3 linked regions of the Homo sapiens genome follow. The protein of the gene in region 1 purifies or fractionates together with the protein of each later gene. This does not show direct contact. Each region holds a gene or a part of one and is shown in the gene's direction. Other genes may lie near its edges.

Evidence for each region. The genes of interacting proteins can lie anywhere in the genome.
Region 2: the proteins of SCGB1D4 (region 1) and CNTNAP3 purify together in Homo sapiens (affinity purification with mass spectrometry; 2 studies listed by BioGRID and IntAct, with this or other methods). This does not show direct contact.
Region 3: the proteins of SCGB1D4 (region 1) and SCARB1 purify together in Homo sapiens (affinity purification with mass spectrometry; 2 studies listed by BioGRID and IntAct, with this or other methods). This does not show direct contact.

The regions. Positions count from the first base shown.
Region 1 is NC_000011.10:62,296,046-62,303,128, reverse strand, and holds SCGB1D4 (secretoglobin family 1D member 4 precursor), read left to right. Parts: upstream 1-4,053; 5' UTR 4,054-4,118; coding exon 4,119-4,173; intron 4,174-5,470; coding exon 5,471-5,657; intron 5,658-6,709; coding exon 6,710-6,719; 3' UTR 6,720-6,848; downstream 6,849-7,083.
Region 2 is NC_000009.12:39,278,162-39,285,191, reverse strand, and holds part of CNTNAP3 (contactin-associated protein-like 3 isoform 1 precursor), read left to right. Parts: intron 1-7,030.
Region 3 is NC_000012.12:124,811,859-124,818,888, reverse strand, and holds part of SCARB1 (scavenger receptor class B member 1), read left to right. Parts: intron 1-1,181; coding exon 1,182-1,339; intron 1,340-3,774; coding exon 3,775-3,916; intron 3,917-4,483; coding exon 4,484-4,687; intron 4,688-6,923; coding exon 6,924-7,019; intron 7,020-7,030. UniProt on the Homo sapiens protein: Receptor for different ligands such as phospholipids, cholesterol ester, lipoproteins, phosphatidylserine and apoptotic cells. Receptor for HDL, mediating selective uptake of cholesteryl ether and HDL-dependent cholesterol efflux.

The DNA.
Region 1 (7,083 bases):
GACACAACAAAAAAAGAAAATTTCAGGCTAATCTCCCGGATGAACATCGATGAGAAAATCCTCAATAAAATACTGGCAAATTGAATCCAGCAGCACATAAAAAAAGCTATCCACCACGATCAAGTCAGCTTCATCCCTGGGATGAAAGGCGGGTTGAACATATGCAAATCAATAAATATAATCCATCACATAAACAGAACCAATGACAAAAACCACATGATAATCTCAATAGATGCAGAAAAGGCCTTTGATAAAATTCAACAGCCCTTCATGCTAAAAACTCTCAATAAACTAGGTATTGATGGAACATATCTCAAAATAATAAGAGCTATTTATGACAAGCCCACAGCCAATATCATATGAATGGGCAAAAGCTGGAAGCATTCCCTTTGAAAACTGGCACAAGACAAGGATGCCCTCTCTCACCACTCCTATTCAACACAGTATTGGAAGTTCTGGCCAGGGCAATCAGGCAAGAGAAAGAAATAAAGGGTATTCAAATAGGAAAAGAGGAAATCCAATTGTCTCTGTTTGCAGATGACATGATTGTATATTTAGAAAACACCATCAACTGACAAAGAAGTGTATTTATCTCTGTGGTTTACAATAACTTTACCCTTCACCTTTTATTTTTGGTGAAAAACCTGGTTAGTAAGCAATTTTAATTATGTTCCAGCTGTGGATCCTAGGACCCAGACAGAAGTGCAGATAAAGTCTGACTTTTCAGCTTCTAGCTCCATGAGTCCCAGGCCTTACCTATGTGTAAAGCAGGCAGTATATGACCTTGCAACATTTAGCAAACCTGGTATCTAAATTATATGATTTAGACAACCTATTTGCATTTTGATGACACTTGCCTTTTACTAATAATCCTTCAGACTATTTTTATTTCTTCAAGTCATGTGAACTAAAACATTTGATTGAAGCACTTATTTTTCTTTAAGCCAATCAATCAGAGCTCTTTTTATAGACATCACACACAGCACATATATAGCAACACTAAGAAACAGAAGATTCAGCACTTGTAAGATTTTTCACTTGGTAGTCTCTTAATTGGATTACTGGCTTTAGGGTGGAGCCCTTGAAGGAACAGGGCTATGTAGCATACCTAATAAACAGACGCAGCTGAAGGCAAAGGCAGATCCCTAAAATTAAGGGTGCCATTTTATACCTGATCTTGGGTCCCTAAAAGGAGGGAGATACTATGGGAGAAGACAGTGTAGTGGTTCTATCACGTATTTCACTGCAAGGGAACCCAAAGCCAATTGGCTTATTCTGTAATGAGCCCATTCCCCATGGGAGTCTCGTCTCTTAGTTGGGGGTGAGGATGTTGCCATATCTTTCAGGTGGCCAAGAGCACGCTTCTTTGATTATAACTACTATTAGCCATCCCTAACATTGAATTTTCTATCTAGTTATTACACACCGAAGCTCTCTCATAGTGTGAAGTAATTTGACACCCCCAAAACTCAAAATGGTAGATTACACAATACATAACAGAACAGAGCCTTTGATTTTGAGAAGTAACTGCTTTTAATTTTGGGGGTTTCATGAGGAAAACAGTTTTTTTTTTTTCCCCAAAATGGGGTCTGTGGTGCCTCCTCTGTTTTTCCCAAGGAGTCCCATGCTACCAGAAGTTATCTTAGGGCTTCTCATGCTTGCATTAAGAATGGTAAGATGAAAAATGGAGAAAAATAATTCAGTTGATTGAAAAGAAAAGAGCCTTTTTCCCAAAAAACAAGATTCAACAAGAGAAAAGCATAAAGACCTTTTCAATATACCTATAACTTGAACATATCCACTTTTAATTAAGCTGAGCACTTTTAAAGAAAATCCTTTTAAATTCCTTGTTACTTGAGATTGCTGCAAATGAGAGGTGCATGGTTCCAGCAGAGTCTATGAAGGGGAGTATTGAACAAGTCATCGGGGTCAGGCAACGATGTCCATGGATGGAAAGAATAAACTAAAATCTTGAGTCAATTGTGTAAAAAGGAGGGAGCCATAAAAAGCATCAATGATGAAAACAAAAAAACCCTGCATAGGTGTTAATCGTGGTAGGACTAATAAAAGTATACGCAAACAATCCTCTGTCAGAGATACACATGCTCCCCAATGGACTGTACAGATGACAAGGTGAATGTCAAGCCTGAGTGAGGATAAACTCTCATCCACAAAAAGGGTGGATGCTTCACAGACCTGTCTACTGCAAAAGAGGCCTCAGTCCTGAAGCCCATATTCATGGGTTTGCAGCCTCCAAGACCATGAGCTGGGTTTCCTTTTCCATTTATGTCAAAGAGAAATGGTGTATCTAGGTGTCCGTGTAGTTCTGCAAGTAGGTGATTTAGTGGATTTTGGCTGTGCTCTAAACTAGGAACTACTGGCAAACCATGACATATATGACAAATGGGACAAGATAATGGCAGTTTACATTGAGAACTACTATGTACCAGAACTTGGTATATTTTAAACACACACACACCCATGAACACACTCATTTGATCATCTATCAACCCAATGATGTAGGCACCATTAGTAGCCTACTTTGACAAATGAGAAAACTGGGGTTACATAAACTGAATAATTTTCCTAAGGTCCAGGAGCCCATAAATGAGGATCTGAACCCTCATAGCTGTAAACCTCACCACCAACCCTCCCCCTCCTTGGTGGCAGCAGGGCTGATTCAGGGACTCCGTCGTCATCCTGTGTGATGAAAGTGAGATCCACTGTTGCCCTCAGCTTGGACTCAACTAAATCTGTCAATGTGTCTTTGATGACAAAACCCGTAAGGTCCCCTTCCTTCTTAAAGGTTTTCCTGGCTGGATCTCAGCCCTGCTGTCTGTGAGAAACACCAGAGCAGTTTAAACAGTACAGAAAGGAGGGATTCACCCCAATGCTACTGAATCAAAATCGCCAGAGAGAGAAGCCTGTGGGGTCAGTATGTTTTAAAAGCTCCAAGTGATTTGACTACATAGCTGAGAATGGAAAGCTATGGCCTGGGCTGTGACTCCTCTCAAATGTAAGTTTATTTAAGAGAAAAATTTCTGGTGATTAAACTCACACCACATGAAGGCACGGCAATGGGAGGGAAGGCGGGTGTGTATTGCTTTGTCTGGGGGCTTCCTTCACTTTCCCTTAAAAATGGGATTGGCCCAGGCAGCACAGATAGGTTTGAAGTGGAAAACTTGAGCCTAGGGGTTAGGGGGAAGTGACCACCCACCCTGTTCCTCTGTCTCTTCCCTTCTATTATCTTCCCAGCCTAGAGCCCCACTGATGTATGATTGGCTCTGAACACTCCAAAAGCTCTTGAGAAAAAGAGTTAGGTTATTTAATCTTCAGATCAGCCCTAAGATAAGACGTGGGTGGCTACACATCACAGAAAGCTTGCTTTTTATAGATAGAAAATGTGAATCTTGGCCATATATATAACTGCACGTATAAACAAGATTCAGGTTTGGGAGTGAGGCAGGCTAGAGAACAGGTGCAGCAGATGTTTTTCCTCAGCATATCTTCTACAGGTGGGATGTATTCAACTATGTTTTCAGTACCTATGCAGTGAACATGGTGGTGATGGAAGGGGCTGAGGGGAAGGATTAGACTTTCCCAATGTGCAACTGAAACAAGCCTGCTTGTTGTCAGACATGCAGGGGGATCAAAGCAGGGTCTCCTTATGTCCCTGCTCTCCCATAAAGAGAACACAGCCTTCCAGCTTCCTGTGCCTTGTGAAGCCATAATTCACCTGTGCCCCTGCACTGCTACAAAGATAAAAAGAACTAATCAGCAAAAGCTCATAAGGAAATTGAGGATCCCAGGAACATTTCCAGATGTACCTGAACACTCACCTGGAGCACAGAGCAGAGTTCTCACAAGGCTGCTGTCTTGTGCTCCGCCCCACTCAGATGCAGAGATTCCTAAGGAGGTGACATTGATGGACGGCAGCAGCCCTGGCTTGGAAGGGCGGGCTGGGAGCCAGGCCTCATGACCTACCAGGTGCCCCGGTAGGTAGGACCAGCCAGGCTCCCTAGGTACAAATAGCCCTGGCCTCCATGACTACACAGGCTCCTGGAGTCGAATCCAAATCACTCATTGTGAAAGCTGAGCTCACAGCCGAATAAGCCACCATGAGGCTGTCAGTGTGTCTCCTGATGGTCTCGCTGGCCCTTTGCTGCTACCAGGGTGAGTACATCAGTCATGAGTCCAGCACCAGCCCCTGGGATGCACCCTCTTCTGAGCACAAGATCACCTATTTGTGCTTTGGGTTGGGGTCTGCACAAAACCAAACAAAATTCCAAACCCTTTTCTGTGCTTGTTGAATAAGATTCATAAAGGTTAGAGCTATTTCTTCTTTCTTCTTCCTTTTTTTTTTTTTTTTTTTGAGAAGTTTTGCTCTTGTTGCCCAGGCTGGAGTGCAGTGGCATGATCTTGGCTCACTGCAACCTCTGCCTCCGGGGTTCAAGTGATTCTCCTGCCTCAGCCTTCCTGAGCAGCTGGGATTACAGGCATGGGCCACCACAGCTGGCTAATTTTGTATTTTTAGTAGAGATGGGGTTTCTCCATGTTGGTCAGGCTGGTCTCGAACTCCCGACCTCAGATGATCTGCCCGCCTCGGCCTCCTAAAGTGCTGGGATAACAGGCATGAGCTACTGCGCCTGGCTGCTTAGAGCTATTTCTTCTAATCCCCAGTATCTAAGAAGTTTTATAGAAAAATCAGTTCAGGCAAATGTTAGGAATTCTTCTGCCTGAGCTTCACTTCTGAATGGGATCTGTGTCAGATGATGTAATGTGAGGTCTGGGGTGAACCTGGGCTTCGACACTTCCCACCCCTTGATCTTGGGCACAATGCTCACCCTCCTTGAGCCTCCTCTTATCACTGGTGGTTAAAGCTTCTGCCAGGAGTGGCTATGAGAATGAAGTAAGGTTATGGTTGTCAAGAGTCAAGCTGTGGGCCAGGCATGGTGTCTCATTCCTGTAATCTTAGCACTTTGGGAGGCCACAGTGGGCAGATCACTTGAGCTCAGGAGTTCAGCACCAGCCTGGGCAACATGGCGAAACCCCATCTCTACAAAAAAAAAAAACAAAACAAAACACACACACACACACACACACACACACACACACACAAAAGCGGGCATGGTGGCAGGCACTGGTAGTCTCAGCTACTTTGGGGGCTGAGGGAGGATCGCTTGAGCCCAAGACATTCAGGCTGCAGTGAGCCGAGATTGTGCCACTGCATTCCAGTCTGGGTGAACCTATCTCAAAAAAAAGAAAAAGAAGTCTAGCTGAGGATATGAAGCTCTTCCCTTTGTTGTGTGACCCGGAGAAAGTCACACCTGGAGTTTCTGGTATTGTCATCAGCACAATAATGGTATAGAAACATAGAACCCAGGGGATCCTGTCTGGTGTAACCTCAGGGAGCCATGAGAGAAAAATCGACTTTCCTAACATCAACAATATTTTTATTTTTGTGCTGCAGCCCATGCTCTTGTCTGCCCAGCTGTTGCTTCTGAGATCACAGTCTTCTTATTCTTAAGTGACGCTGCGGTAAACCTCCAAGTTGCCAAACTTAATCCACCTCCAGAAGCTCTTGCAGCCAAGTTGGAAGTGAAGCACTGCACCGATCAGATATCTTTTAAGAAACGACTCTCATTGAAAAAGTCCTGGTAATTTCTTTCTCCTTTATGCAGAGGCAGAATTCAACTCAGCTGCACACAGCCTCCTGCATGTTTCTTGTCAGGTCACCTGCCTGGATGCTGTGTCCCCAGAGTGTGCTGAGGACATGGGGAGTGAGCTAGGGCCAAGGCAGGGATGGTGAAGGGCCAAGCACGGCCGCCTCCCTGCTGGGATCTTTCCTGAGGTCAACCTACCCTCACGCAGTGGACACGGTCACTATGGGATGTCCCAGGGAGTGTGGGAGATTTGAACAGGGAGAGGAGGCTTGAGGGGACCTAGAGCTGGGCCTCCCACAGACAGGGTGCTGGTGAACTGGGCTCCTGTGCAGCTTCTGCAGAGCCAGGAGCCCCTTGCAGCTCCTCAGGGCCCACTATCCACTCCTCATCCATGACACTCTCCTGACCACAGCCAGTGGGCCAAGACTTTTTCGCTGCTCTACCTACTGCAACGCCACACAAGTGGGATGTTCTCACTATGTCTTTCTCAAGAAATCAGAGATTCCAGGGCCCTCTCAGCCTGGCTGCCTCTGGATTGTTGTCCTGAGGTTTGGCTGCAAATACCCATAGAAGCTGCAGGGTCAGGGCTGATAAGACCCCTGGCCGTTAGGCAGAATTCTCCCATGGGAAGACTGGAGTCTCCTGGAAGGTGTGTTTCCCAGAAGCCCTCCCTGCCCTGCCTGGCTTCAGAGCCCTGGGTCCCCCATTACAGGGATCAGGAGACTCCACAGACCTGGGACAGCCCAGACAACAACCTCTTGCTGCACTGTCAACCCCTCCCCTCCTCCTCCATGAAAACCCTGGGCCTAACTCCTGGGTCTTCCCAGGTCTATTGGTCTGGTGGGGAAAGGCTGCTTTCTCACCAGAATGGGTGTTGTAAGGCCACCAGGTCTAGGCCTCAGTTTCCCAAACTGAATTCTTGCCTCTGCCTTTCCAATTGCCATTGGGGCAAAATCCCATTGGCCTCTTTGATGTTAGCCTATCATCACCAGCAGCAGCATGACTGACCTCACCTTTCTTTCTTTCTTTCTTTTTTTTGATTTCAGGTGGAAATAGTGAAAAAATGTGGTGTGTGACATGTAAAAATGCTCAACCTGGTTTCCAAAGTCTTTCAACGACACCCTGATCTTCACTAAAAATTGTAAAGGTTTCAACACGTTGCTTTAATAAATCACTTGCCCTGCACATCTCCACTGGTCTTGTTATGATCCTGCAGTCTCGGGCCTTGAATCGAGGGTGGTTTCCATAGGGGAGTGGACTTTTGCTGTGGCTGATAATCAACTCTAGAGTAACCAGCATTCTGTTACTAATGGGGCCTGAATGCAAGCATCCCAGAAGGAAATATTTGCAGAAATCATCCTGGATTCCTTACAGATTTCCCATCCTGCGTTCGCGAATGAAAACCATGGCAATAGAAAAC
Region 2 (7,030 bases), on another chromosome or scaffold:
AATTTATTCATTACTTAGCCTAAAACACTTTTAATTTTAATTGCCTCAATTTTTTCCCCTAAATGGTTATGTTTTGCAAGTTCGCCAGCCAGCCTGGGGAAAGAAGGGTAAGCCTACTATAGAGTGTGTGTGGGTTAGTTAGGAAACTCACTTAGATGTGAAATGTGTCAGGAAAGAGATCTCACAGAGTGTAGGAATAATTATTTTTACAGATGTTTCATTTTGGACCTTTTAGTAATACCATTTAAAGAGAGATTCTGCAGATGAGTAACAGACTCTTAATTTTAGTGTCAAATGGTACTCTATAAAAAATGGAGTTCAGGCCAGGCGCGGTGGCTCACACCTGTAATCCCAGCACTTTGGGAGGCTGAGGTGGGTGGATCAGTTGAGGTCGGGAGTTCGAAACCAGGCTGGACAACACGGTGAAACCCCGTCTCTACTAAAAATATGAAAAAATTTCAGGGCATGGTGGCAGGTGCCTGTGAGGAGGCAGTGAGCTGAGATCGTGCCACTGCACTCCAGCCTGGGTGACAGAGTGAGACTCTGTCTCAAAAAAAAAACCAAAAAATGTAGTTCAGTTGCCTTTATTCATTTTCACCAAACTCTATACAAACAGTACGGAGCATAAGTAGCCCATGGAAGTGATAATCAATTCCAAGACATTGGTTTGATCATGAAAAAAGAAAAATCAAATTACTTGGCGTTCTTCTTCCTCTTCCTCTCCCCTTCTCTTTTTGAACAATTCAGTCCAAGGTCATTCAGTTCAGCTTAGGCATCCATGCTGGGTAGTGGGGAGGCCCAGGACCGTGGCAGAGCATTCAGAAACCAGCAGGGTAAGGAAAGCATCCACAGTGTAGCAAGGGTGGGGACCTGGAGAGACAGGAGACAGCACTGGTGGTGACCTATAGCAAGTTGTCAGAGGTTGAGTGGAGTGAGGAAGGAGGCATTCCAGATTGACGGAGGCTAAGAAAACAAGGCAACTAAATACTACTCTGCATTAAATGCTTATGTTATAAAGGACATGATTGGGAATTGGTGCAACTTGAACAAGATTGGGGATTAAATATTGGAACTTTATCCATGATGACTGGGATGATCATATTATGGTTATATAGGAGAACATCTTTGTTGTAGGAAATGTACATTGAAGTATTCAGGGGTGATACAGCATATTAGCGTAGTTCTTCCATGTTTTCTGTAAATTGGTTTCAAAATCAAATGGTTACTTTAAAAAACCATTCAAAATTGTGTTTAAAGGAAACATGGACCAATAGAAAAACTCAGAATAAGTAAATGTAGTTAAATTGATGCATTTTACCTAAGAGATGTAGATTAAAAATAAAGAGGCTGAAAAAAAAACAGTTATGAGAAATAACAGTTCATTTATGTATGTCTCTAAATCAAATTAGCCTGGATTTCTGAATGACAAAGATGTGATTGGCACTGGGATTGTTCCCCATTCTTTTCGGGAAGTTTATTGCCTAGGACATCTGTATCAGTCTTCAAAGTACTTTTTAAAGCTTGAATATCTGAATGAACCCGTCAGACTGACTGTTATCTGGTCTTCTGTAATGGGCTTCCGCACCTTTGACGAGACTCTTAGCTGAAAGGTTGCTTGTCCCTAGGCCCGGTTGCTCCACGTTGTAAGAGCATTTGCAAACGCTTGGTTGTACATGATTGTGCACATGTCAAGTCTGCTCTGTCACTGTAGAAAAAATATTCCTTTTCACTTGACATATAAAGCATGGAATTGTTTGTTTTAAATGTCTTTTGTCAAGGATTTCATATATCTGCTTGATGTGTTGTACTGTATAAAAGACAAGTGTGAAATTCATTGCTTACTATGATAGCCTTAACAGGACTACAGTAAATCTAGTTTTCTAAAAAATGGAGTATATGCTTAGCTTGGTTAAAATTTTATAATGAAATGACTACTCTGGTAATAAAAATTAAAAAATATCATAAAGTGGGGGCTAAAAAATGATACTGCATGTGTTCCAGTTAATGAACATTTTTGTTGTAATAATACGAAGAGTGATTGAAATCTAAAAACATTTGAGATTTTAAAATAGTTTTAACCTTATAACTACAGGATTGTAATTTAAGTAGCATACCTACTTAATAAGGCAGCAATTAAAATTATTGCTAAGAATTAAATTACCAAGAAGACATGGTCTAGTATGTATTGCCTGGGCTGTGGTTTGAATTACTTTTGATTAAGTATAATCACATTTTTTGAGAGTATAAAAACAGAGGATATTACTTGCTTCTAATTCACAGATGTGTTTATGAACCATTGGCAATTAAAGCATTTGCAATTGAGGCCCTAAGAAAATTTTAGGTTAAAATAACATGTTGAGTTATGCCTTATAACTCAGTATATGCTTATACTTTATATGCTTTACGGAGTTTTGAATATATAATATATATATATAATAGTATATTTTTCCAGGAAATATATAACTTGTAGTTCCTTGACTTATTTTGTAACTAAATCCCATGGAAAAAAGTTTATTGAATGTCATTGTTTCTCAGGCAAATGTAGAGTTAGGAAAATGATATATATACATATTGGGAATCTTTTAGAAGGCTTGGACTTGGTAGCTCAAATCTTCTACAACCTTGAGCTTCAACTTTCTGGCCGGTTCAAGAGATCTCTTCACTGTCCTTTTCATGTAAAGTCAATGTTTATGGAACACTAGACCAAAATGGAAGGATTCCTTTGGAAACTGAACAAACAGTTGAATTAGTCTTTGACTTGATGGAGTGATTTGATCTAAAATATTACCTAACCGTTTTAGATATCTGTTCAATCAGAGCTGCCTCCATATACGCAAATGATAATTTGTCTTGGATTTTTAGATATCTTAGCCCTCAGACAAGCTAATAGAGTTTAAATTGAACCTGGTGTTTTAGGGACAGTTGAATTGTTGGGATGCCCAGGAAAACAGTCACATTTTTCTATAAGTATGTGTTTATTTGGCTGGAATGTGGGTGAGGAAGAAGTTATATGTGAATTAAAAGAAACATTGTCTCAATGTCACATGTTAAATTAAATTAAATTACAGGCAGAACTAAGCGAGTTTACGATTGCTGCCGCTGGGAGCAGAGACTATTTTCAGCTTACATTTATAACAGAAGGAGGGATTTAAAATATAGTATTATGCCTACCCTGATACAGCTAACCTCCTCCACCCGCCCCTCCACACACATACAGCTACATGCTTACCCTCGAACTATGAAAGAAGGGTGTCTCTCAGGCATCCTATATTTAACCCAGCTTTGGACACGTCCCTGGAGTCTAGTCTTTTTGAACACAGCAGTGAAGATAAGGAATGGGGAGGGGGCTTTGATTTCAAGACCACTAGATATAGTAGATTCCTAATTTAATTTCAAAGACAAATCAATTATTAACACAAATACAAAGAGAACAGTATTTTAAGCAAAGCTTCTGTTGTGGCAGATAACCTTTTAAGGTGTCTCCCAGTTGGGTTTCTATTTTAGATGACTTTTTGAAGAATATATCTCTGTAATAGAAATATGTTTGATGATTCTCATCTTTAAGAACTTCACATTTGCTATAATTAAGATATTTATGAATTTATTGTAAGAAGATTGGTAGAAAAAGTAATGCAACATCAAATGGGAAAATAAATATATAATATTATATAGCTGTTCAAATATAGGGTTTATGATTCTTGAGCTAATTTGAACTGCTGTACAACACCAGGAGAAAAGTCCACAGCTGTGTTAAGAAAGCTCTTATAAGCTTATGAAATTTTATAGCACAGGCTGTCACAGAACCTACAATTTACAAACATTTGTAAAAGTTAGGAAAGTTTTGGGTTCCTCAATAGAAAATGATGTTGCTTAGCTTTAAGAAAGTAACTAATTTATCTCTTTTTATTCTTGTCCACTAACAAAGGAACCCAAATGGTCTTTTAAAATTATAATAAAACTAAGCTAGTAAAATATCACATAGATTTTGAGATACTGTGAATAACCATAGAAAATAACAATTTGTTGTTCTTCATGTATAAAAATAAGCTTAACATGCTTATCAATACATCTTGAACCATAAGAGATTTATTTCAGCAGTGTTGCCAAAGGGCAAGCAATGCCTGCTGCCCGTAGAAAACTTTGAATTCCCTAAGCTCAGGGCTCCTCACTTGTCATGTAACCCACTGCGTGTGCACACATCCATCTGTGCCCATCCATATTCCCCCAGAGGACTTGGAGGCAAGGAAATTGATGCAAATATGCTGATGCTCATATTGTTTGCTATGCTGTAAGTAATACAGTCCTTTGCTTTGACCCAGGAGTCTTCTGCCGCAACGATGAAACAAACTGGCAGACTCATTTGTTAGCTTGCAAGTAGGGTAAAATCTCTCCTCACGGTTCTTCACAGTGTACTTGTCTGTGCAATGGTCATCTTCTTCATGAATATAATTATAACATGATATAAGAAATAGTGAGCTCTTACCTATAGATAAGCAAACATTGCAATATAAAAATAGCATATGTTATTTCATAAATCACAGTTGACACATTCTAGAGAAGAGATTGGGCAGCCTTTTTTGGATGTCACAGTTGATTCTACTGTCCTCATTTCTTCTTCTCTTTTCTGGGATATGAGGAAGAATTGCTGTGACAAAGCTCATCTCCTGGGTGGCCAGGGTTGATTGTCAATTTGTTTTGTTCTTGGAAGGCTAGGCAGATGTCCTCTACCTCCTTCTTTATGCCATGTGACGTTCATCCCTTTGATTTTCCTGTTGCATTTTATTTAGTATTTTAGAATACTGCCCACATTCCATTCTGGAAAGTCCACTCTCCCAGCCAGAGTTTTCTTAGACAGCTGAGCCTGTGATGGGCGTTTGTGCAGGTAGCCTCTTTTAGAAAGTGAGCTCATAAAAGAGGGAAGAATGGAATAGAGAAGAAAAATCCACCAAAAGGGGGTGTCATTGAGCTGGTCACTTCTGTGAGCAACTGGGGCATGAACTCCCTGGGAAGCTCTCAGGAAGCCGGTAGAATGTGTTTCACAGCTGTGCCTCTGAGAGACAGCAGGGGGAATGCATTTATCCCAAGTCCTGTCCAGGGATTCAGCACTGCCCTTGGGGCGCTAACTCCTGGCTCTAAGGAGAGGAATATGAATGAATGGGTTGCGACTGGGTTTCTGCAGGCATCACAGAGGCCAAGAGACAGAGAACTCGAACACTGAACTTTTTAATTTTTTATTATTTTATTATTATTATACTTTAAGTTATAGGGTACATGTGCACAACGTGCAGGTTTGTTACATATGTATACATGTGCCATGTTGGTGTGCTGCACCCATTAACTAGTCATTTAGCATTAGGTATATCTCCTAATGCTATCCCTCCCCCGTACCCCCACCCCACGACAGTCCCCGTTGTGTAATGTTCCCCTTCCTGTGTCCATGTGTTCTCATTGTTCAGTTCCCACCTATGAGTGAGAACATGTGGTGTTTGGTTTTTTGTCCTTGCGATAGTTTGCTGAGAATGATGGTTTCCAGCTTCATCCATGTCCCTACAAAGGACATGAACTCATCATTTTTTATGGCTGCATAGTATTCCATGGTGTATATGTGCCACATTTTCTTAATCCAGTCTATCATTGATTGACATTTGGGTTGGTTCCAAGTCTTGTTATTGTGAATAGTGCTGCAATAAACATACGTGTGCATGTGTCTTTATAGCAGCATGATTTATAATCCTTTGGGTATATACCCAGTAATGGGATGGCTGGGTCAAATGGTATTTCTAGTTCTAGATCCCTGAGGAATTGCCACACCGACTTCCACAATGGTTGTACTAGTTTACAGTCCCACCAACAGTGTAAAAGTGTTCCTATTTCTCCACATCCTCTCCAGCACCTGTTGTTTCCTGACTTTTTAATGATTGTCATTCTAACTGGTGTGAGATGGTATCTCATTGTGGTTTTTGATTTGCATTTGATTGCCAGTGGTGATGAGCATTTTTTCATGTGTTTTTTGGCTGCATGGATGTCTTCTTTTGAGAAGTGTCTGTTCATATCCTTTGCCCACTTTTTGATGGGATTGTTGGTTTTTTTCTTGTAAATTTGTTTGAGTTCATTGTAGATTCTGGATATTAGCCCTTTGTCAGATGAGTAGGTTGCAAAAATTTCCTCCCATTCTGTAGGTTGCCTGTTCACTCTGATTGTAGTTTCTTTTGCTCTGTAGAAGCTCTTTAGTTTAATTAGATCCCATTTGTCAATTTTGGCTTTAGTTGCCATTGCTTTTGGTGTTTTAGACATGAAGTCCTTGCCCATGACTGTGTCCTGAATGGTATTGCCTAGGTTTTCTTCTAGGGTTTTTATGGTTTTAGGTCTAACATTTAAGTCTTTAATCCATCTTGAATTAATTTTTGTATAAGGTGTAAGGAAGGGATCCAGTTTCAGCTTTCTACTTATGGCTAGCCAGTTTTCCCAGCACCGTTTATTAAATAGGGAATCCTTTCCCCAATGCTTATTTTTGTCAGGTTTCTCAAAGATCAGATAGTTGTAGATATGCGGCATTATTTCTGAGGGCTCTGTTCTGTTCTGTTCTATATCTCTGTTTTGGTACCAGTACCATGCTGTTTTGGTTACTGTAGCCTTGTAGTATAGTTTGAAGTCAGGTAGTGTGATGCCTCCAGGTTTGTTCTTTTGGCTTAGGATTGACTTGGCAATGCGGGCTCTTTTTTGGTTCCAAATGAACTTTAAAGTAGTTTTTTCCAATTCTGTGAATAAAGTCATTGGTAGCTTGATGGGGATGGCATTGAATCTATAAATTACCTTGGGCAGTATGGCCATTTTCATGATACTGATTCTTCCTACCCATGAGCATGGAATGTTCTTTCGTTTGTTTGTATCCTCTTTTATTTCCTTGAGCAGTGGTTTGTAGTTCTCCTTGAAGAGGTCCTTCACATCCCTTGTAAGTTGGATTCCTAGGTATTTTATCCTCTTTGAAGCAATTGTGAATGGGAGTTCACTCATGATTTGGCTCTCTGTT
Region 3 (7,030 bases), on another chromosome or scaffold:
GAGGTCAGGAGACCAGCCTGGCCAACGTGGTGAAACCCCACTTCTACTAAAACAAAAACAAAAACTAAAACAAAAATTAACCAGGTATGGTGGTGGGTGCCTGTAGTCCCAGCTACTCGGGAGGCTGAGGGAGGAGAACTGCTTGAACCCGGAATATGGAGGTTTCGGTGAGCCGAGATCGCGCCACTGCAGTCCAACCTGGGCCACAGAGCAAGACTCCCTCTCAAAAAAATAAAATAAAATAAAAATACAAAAATTAGCCAGGCGTGATGGTGGGGGCCTGTAGTCCCAGCTACTCAGGAGGCTAAGGCAGGAGAATCGCTTGAACACAGAAGCAGAGGTTGCAGTTAGCCAAGATCATGCCACTGCACTCCAGCCTGGGCAACAGAGTGAGACTCCATCTCAAAAAATAAATAAATAAATAAAATTATTCTTTATAGAGACAGGGTCTTGCTATGTTGCCCAGGCTGGTCTCAAACTCTTGGGCTCTGGTGATCCTCCTACCTCGGCCTCCCAAAGTTCTGGGATTACAGGCATGAGCCATGGTGCCTGGCCTATATTTCACTTACGTGATGACTGTCTCAAATCCCAGTCTCTCCCCAATCCCTGCTGTGTTTTCTCTGTGCTCTGTCACGTGGCATGCGTTTTACCTGAGTTGTTTGGTGCCTGCCTTTCCTCCGCTATGGTAAAGCCCCACATAGCTGGGCTTTTGGTCTGTCCTGGTCATTCTCCCATCCCCAGCTCTTAGAACCCGCCTGGCAGGTGGTAGTGCTCAGTGCTTGCTTGTGGAATGAATGAATGATCCCCCTGGCCACACGGAGCCCATGTTCCTGCATGAGGCTATCCCTGCCCTGAGCCCATCCGCTACCCTGAGCTCCGGCGCTCCCTTTAGGTGGTGCATGGGCCCCTGTTTACCACAGTCCCTTGACTGGTGTCACCTGTTGCTGTTAGGACATATTTTAAGATGCATTATGACAGCATGGATAGGTTGCCTGTTTAATTCCATAAGCTCCAGGTGCGACAGCCTCATGTGCGAAGGGCTTTCCCACCACCTCCTATCCCAAGCTCCCGCCGAGGAGCCCCTTCCCTGGCCGGGCTCGGGCAGCTGTTCCGGAGCCTTGTGGTGGGGCGTGGGGCCCTCATCACTCTCCTCACAAGCGTACTTGTCCCTTCCCCTGCAGAACGTGCGCATCGACCCCAGTAGCCTGTCCTTCAACATGTGGAAGGAGATCCCTATCCCCTTCTATCTCTCCGTCTACTTCTTTGACGTCATGAACCCCAGCGAGATCCTGAAGGGCGAGAAGCCGCAGGTGCGGGAGCGCGGGCCCTACGTGTACAGGTGAGGCTGTGTCCAGGTGAGGGTGGAGGGGCCGGCTGAGGCTGGGCAGGGGAGGGGTCTCAGAGTGGACGGGATGGGGAGGCTGCTGACTGAGCCCCAGAGATTGTTCCGGAAGCAGGCAAGTCATAGTCGGGGTAAGTGCTAGTCCCAGAGAAGTTTTTGTTTTAGGGTTTTTTTTTTTTTTTTTTTTTTTTTTAGAGATGGGATCTTGCTATGTTGCCCAGGCTGGTTTTGAAGTCCTGGGCTCAAGCGATCCTCCGCCTCAGCCTCTCAAAGTGCTGGGATTACAGGTGCGAATCACCAGACGTTGCCTAGAGAGGTTCTTTATGGAGCAGGGAGGGACCAATGGTGTGCGTCTGGGTGGAGGGTGCATGTGTGAGTTACACACATACATACACACACATACACATACACATACACACATACATACATACACACGTACATACACATACACACACACATACATACACACACATGTACCTACACATGCATACACACATACACACACACACACACACACACACACACATGCATGACCAGGAGCAGGGACCGACCCCCCAGACCCTATCTGGGCCAGAGGACCGGGTGGGTCAGCACGGGAAGGGGTCAGCTGTTTGTGGAACATGCTGGCCCAAGGACCACAGAGTTGTGCCTTTGCTTTCTGCTTGTCCTGTACCTGGCTGTGGCCTAGGGGAAGTGACTTCATTCCTCTGAGCCTCAGTTTGCCCGTCTGCAGACTGGAGAGACACAAGAGCCCCTTCATGGGGTCACCGGGACACTCAGGATGCACTCGGAGCTCTGAGACGGCTGGCGGATGTGCCTGTTACAACTCCCTTACCTCCTGGCGTTTTCACAGCACCTCCCCTCCTCCACACCCCCACTTCCCAGTTCACAGACAGGGGAGCTGACTTGCCCCCGGCACACGGTGTTCCAGGGATGGGGCGGGCAGAGGGTGTTCCCGCTGTTGGAGACCCACAGTCTGGTTCTGGGAAAGCCAAGATGAAAACCCAGCAAATGTGCCTGAGGTTTGGGAATGGGAAACATGAATCAGCTGCTGCATTCCGTTCACTCATTCACTCATTCGCTCGTTCATTTAACAAATGTTTACTGAGCACCTGCTAGGTGTTGGCTGCCGTTCTAAGTACAGGGGACCCAGCAGTGGACAGAATGGGCAAAAATGCCAAAGCTCTCTATACTCCTTCATTCTGTGAGCACTGACTGAGCACCTCCTGTGTGCTGGGGGCGCAGGCAGACCAAGGCCCTGCCTCACCAAGCTGATGTTCTGATGGGGAGAGAGTAAAGAAGTGGACAAATAAGGGGAAATCAGGCAGCCATCAGTATTGTGCAGACAAAACAGTGTGAAGCCGGAGTGCAGGAGGGAGGGTGGCCTTGGGGCTCGGTCTGACTGGAGGGTCGGGAGCACATCTGCAAAGGGACACTCACTGGACCCGCATGGTGGGAAGAGGCCCTGGGGAGACAGAGTCCCGGGCAGAGCATGTGCAAAGGTCTGAAGGCTGGGACAGAGGCCTGTGCGGCTGGGGTTACGAGGGAGGGAGACAGTGGAGAGACGAGGCCTGAGCCTTGCTGAGGGCCTCAGAGGTCACGTTAGGAGCCTGATTTTAACCTGCATGCAAAGTGGGGTTGTGGTCCAGAGCATGGCACGATCTGATTTCTACTTTTTTTTTTGAGACGGAGTCTCTCTTTCACCCAGGTTGGAGTGCGGTGGCGCGATCTCGGCTCACTGCAACGTCCGCCCCCCAGGTTCAAGCGATTCTCCTGCCTCAGCCTCCCGAGTAGCTGGGATTACAGGCATCTGCCACCATGCCCAGCTAATTTTTGTATTTTTAGTAGAGACGTGGTTTCGCCATGTTGGGCAGGATGGTCTTGAACTCCTGACATCAGGTGATCTGCCCACCTCAGCCTCCCAAAGTGCTGGGTTTACAGGCATGAGCCACTGCTCCCGACCTGATTTCCACTTTTCAAAGATTCTTCTGGATGGTGGAGAGTGGCTTGGAGAGATGAGAGATCATAAGGACAGCAGCAGCAACAGTCACAGCAGCTGATGTTTACCTCGTGCTTTCTCTGCACCCGGCGGCTGTGTTGATTGCTTTCTGGGTATCTGATTGCTTAATCCCCACAGCTGCCCTGTGAAGTAGGGCTTGTGATTACTTCCTTTTGTAGATGGAGAGACGATGGCCGTGTTGGGTGGGGGAGAGCAGAACGAGGCCGGGTGGGCGGCGACACCATGTCCTGCAGTGGGCAGGCGGCGGGAGGGACAGACTTGGCGAAGGGGCCGAGCTCAGCTTTGGCTGTGGGGCCGGAGGTGTGCACAGACGTCCAGGGCCCCTGGTTCCCAGGCAGGCATTGCAGGCGAGTAGAAGGGAAACGTCCCATGCAGCGGGGCGGGGCGTCTGACCCACTGGCTTCCCCCACAGGGAGTTCAGGCACAAAAGCAACATCACCTTCAACAACAACGACACCGTGTCCTTCCTCGAGTACCGCACCTTCCAGTTCCAGCCCTCCAAGTCCCACGGCTCGGAGAGCGACTACATCGTCATGCCCAACATCCTGGTCTTGGTGAGGCTGCCCTGTGGCCCACGCCGCCTCGCACCCTGACCTCGTCCCCTGTCTCTCCTCCCGCCTGCCCCTTGTGCAGAGAGCAGTCCCTGAGGTGGTCGGAGCGTGGGGACTCACGCCTGGTGGGTGGCTTTCGGCCCTGTGCTGTCTCCACCACCCCCAGTGGGTTCTGAGTTTCCCAGGTGGGTCCACCTGTCTTGGTTTGGAAGTCCTGGCCAAAGTACTTTTTTTTCCCTTTTCAATTTACATTTCTGAGATCTCCAAAAGGGGCTGTCTTGTTGAGGGCTGAGCCACAGGCCCGCCTCTGGGACTGGGGCTGGAGTTCACTTAGCCTGAGTCCAGTGGGGTGCAAGGGGGAGAAGGGGTTCTCGGGAGCACATGTGGCCTTGGCACTGGAGGAGCAGAGGGTGGTTCTGGTGTCCCAGATGCCCCACGTGGCCACTCCAGGGGCCTCCTGCACCCCAGCATTTCCCTTCATGGGCTCTTTGCTGTGAGGCCCAGCTGGGGCCAAGGGAGGATGGGCCAGCCACGTCCAGCCTCTGACACTAGTGTCCCTTCGCCTTGCAGGGTGCGGCGGTGATGATGGAGAATAAGCCCATGACCCTGAAGCTCATCATGACCTTGGCATTCACCACCCTCGGCGAACGTGCCTTCATGAACCGCACTGTGGGTGAGATCATGTGGGGCTACAAGGACCCCCTTGTGAATCTCATCAACAAGTACTTTCCAGGCATGTTCCCCTTCAAGGACAAGTTCGGATTATTTGCTGAGGTACGTGTGGCCTGGTGAGAAGCCAAAGATTCAGGCCTGTGTCCTGTCTTCCCCTCACACAGCCTGGACACTGGTCACCAGCTTGCTTTGTAGCTGGCTGGGGATCTAGTGGCTGTGGGTTGTAAGTGACTGAGAACCTGACTCAAACCGGCTTGAGTGAAATGGGGAATGTTGGGGCTCATAGAACTGAAAATGCTAGGGTTGGATTCAGGTACAGCTTGATCCAGGCTCAAATGATGTGACTGGGCCTTAGCTTAGCAAATTGGAGGCTTTGCTGGAGGAAGGGGGCATGGCTGCTGGGGAGTAATATCACAAGCTGACTCTTAATCTTGACTCTTGGCAACCTGGTAGGGTCACTGACTGGGCTTCGGAGCCAACATCTCGTCCATGGAGGGTCTGACCCTGACCTTGGCTCCCTCACCGCAGGTTTCACTGAGTCCTTGGGACTGCTCCAGCCTCAGCCATCTCTTTGGTCTCTGCTGATCAGGGTAGAGTGCTGGGGGGGATATCGTGGTGCTGCGTGTGATAGATACTCAGTACGTTTTTGTCAAGGGTGACGGGCTCCTGTCGTGTGGGTAAATGAGCAAGTTTGGGCTAAGTGGCATGATGCTGTAAAGGCATCTTGTAAATCCTGAAGTGCTTTGCAAATGAAAGTTATTACAAAGTCCCTAGTTTAGTATAATCTACGTTTGACTGCATATAATGAAAACCTCACAAGAAAAGTCTAGCGGTAGGCTGTTCAGTGTTGGTGTGGTGGCTTCATGGTCTTAAGTGATCTGGAAGCCTTCTACTACTGTGCTCTGCCATCCTTGGCATGTGGTTTTCATCCTCAAGATAACCTCATTGTCCAAGTTGGCTGCTAGAGTGTCAGCAATCACATCACATTCCAGGCAGCACAGCAAGAAGGAAAAAATGGTGGGGCTTTGGGGAGCAGATGGAGGAACTGGGGGTAAAACAGCGTGTTCCAGTTTCCTCCCTCTTAGGGAGGAAGAAAACCAATGTCCACTTCCTTTCTATTGGCCAGAACTGAGTCACATGGCCACACCTAGCTCCAGGGGAAGCTGGAAAGGTAGCCTTTTAGCTGGGTGTGCTGATGCTCTGAGTATGGTTTGGGTTTTGTATGAAAGAGTAAGGAGAGATTGGGCTTTGGGTAGTAACTGGCAGTTTCTGATGCTCTCCGTCCATTATAATGATCATTTAAGTATCCTATTGGGTGAGCATTTATTAATAATAACAATAATAATGAAAATAAAGACTATCATTTTGAGCTCTTACTGTGTCCGGTGCACTGTACCTGGCCGTTTTTGCACATGAGTCCCTTTAATGCTCCCCTTTGTAGTGGCTCTGGTTATTCTTGGCTCCACATGGGCACGTGACAGACACACCCGGGATGCTGGGCTGGGGCCTTGTGCTGGGTCCTGCTCTGGAGGTCTGTGATGGGTGCAGTCACTCAGCCGGGCAACCTTGGAGCTCCTCAGTGTGCTCCACCCTGCAAAGCACTTCTAGATATTTCCTTCAGTCACTCATACCACTTTGTGCTTTGCATGTCTTTGGGATTAGAAACCAGCTTCTGGGAAATGCTCTCGGAGCACCAAAGCCTGGGCCCCACTATCAAGAACCTCGATGGGTTAGGACAGGCCAGGTTTTGCTGCTGTGACAAGCAGCCCCGGAATCTCCATGGCTTAGAACAACCAAGACTTATTCCTTTGCTTGCACTCCACGTCCAGTGTGGGTGACTGGGGCACCCGCGCTTGTGGTGGTCACTTGGGGATCCAGGCTGAGGGAGGCTCTGTCTTGACACATACCTCCTTGGCTGCTATAGCAGCGGCAGAGAGCCCGGTGAAAGGCGTGTGCACAGTCCTTAAAGCATCCCCCCAAGTGACATGCCACTTCTCCTTTTTCATTGCTCAGGGAGCTGACCTGGCCATGCTTTATTTTATGCTGGAGTAGGGTGTGGTGGGGGTGATCTGCCATTTACCTGGGAGGAAAGCCAGACTCTCCTGGAGTTAGGAAGGGAGGGTGGAACACTGCAGCCACAGAACCCGGGACCATTCCTCCTAGAAAGCTCCCAAGCCTCCTCTCGGTCCCCAGACACTGGGCATTTGGCAGTGAACCAGATGCTGGGGGCCCTGTCCTTCTGGTGGAGGGGGAGGAGGGCTCAGCCCAGAATGTTCAGACCAGGCCGGCTCAATGGCAGGCCTAAGCCTTACGATGCTGTTCCCTGCTGTGTCTGTAGCTCAACAACTCCGACTCTGGGCTCTTCACGGTGTTCACGGGGGTCCAGAACATCAGCAGGATCCACCTCGTGGACAAGTGGAACGGGCTGAGCAAGGTGAGGGGCGA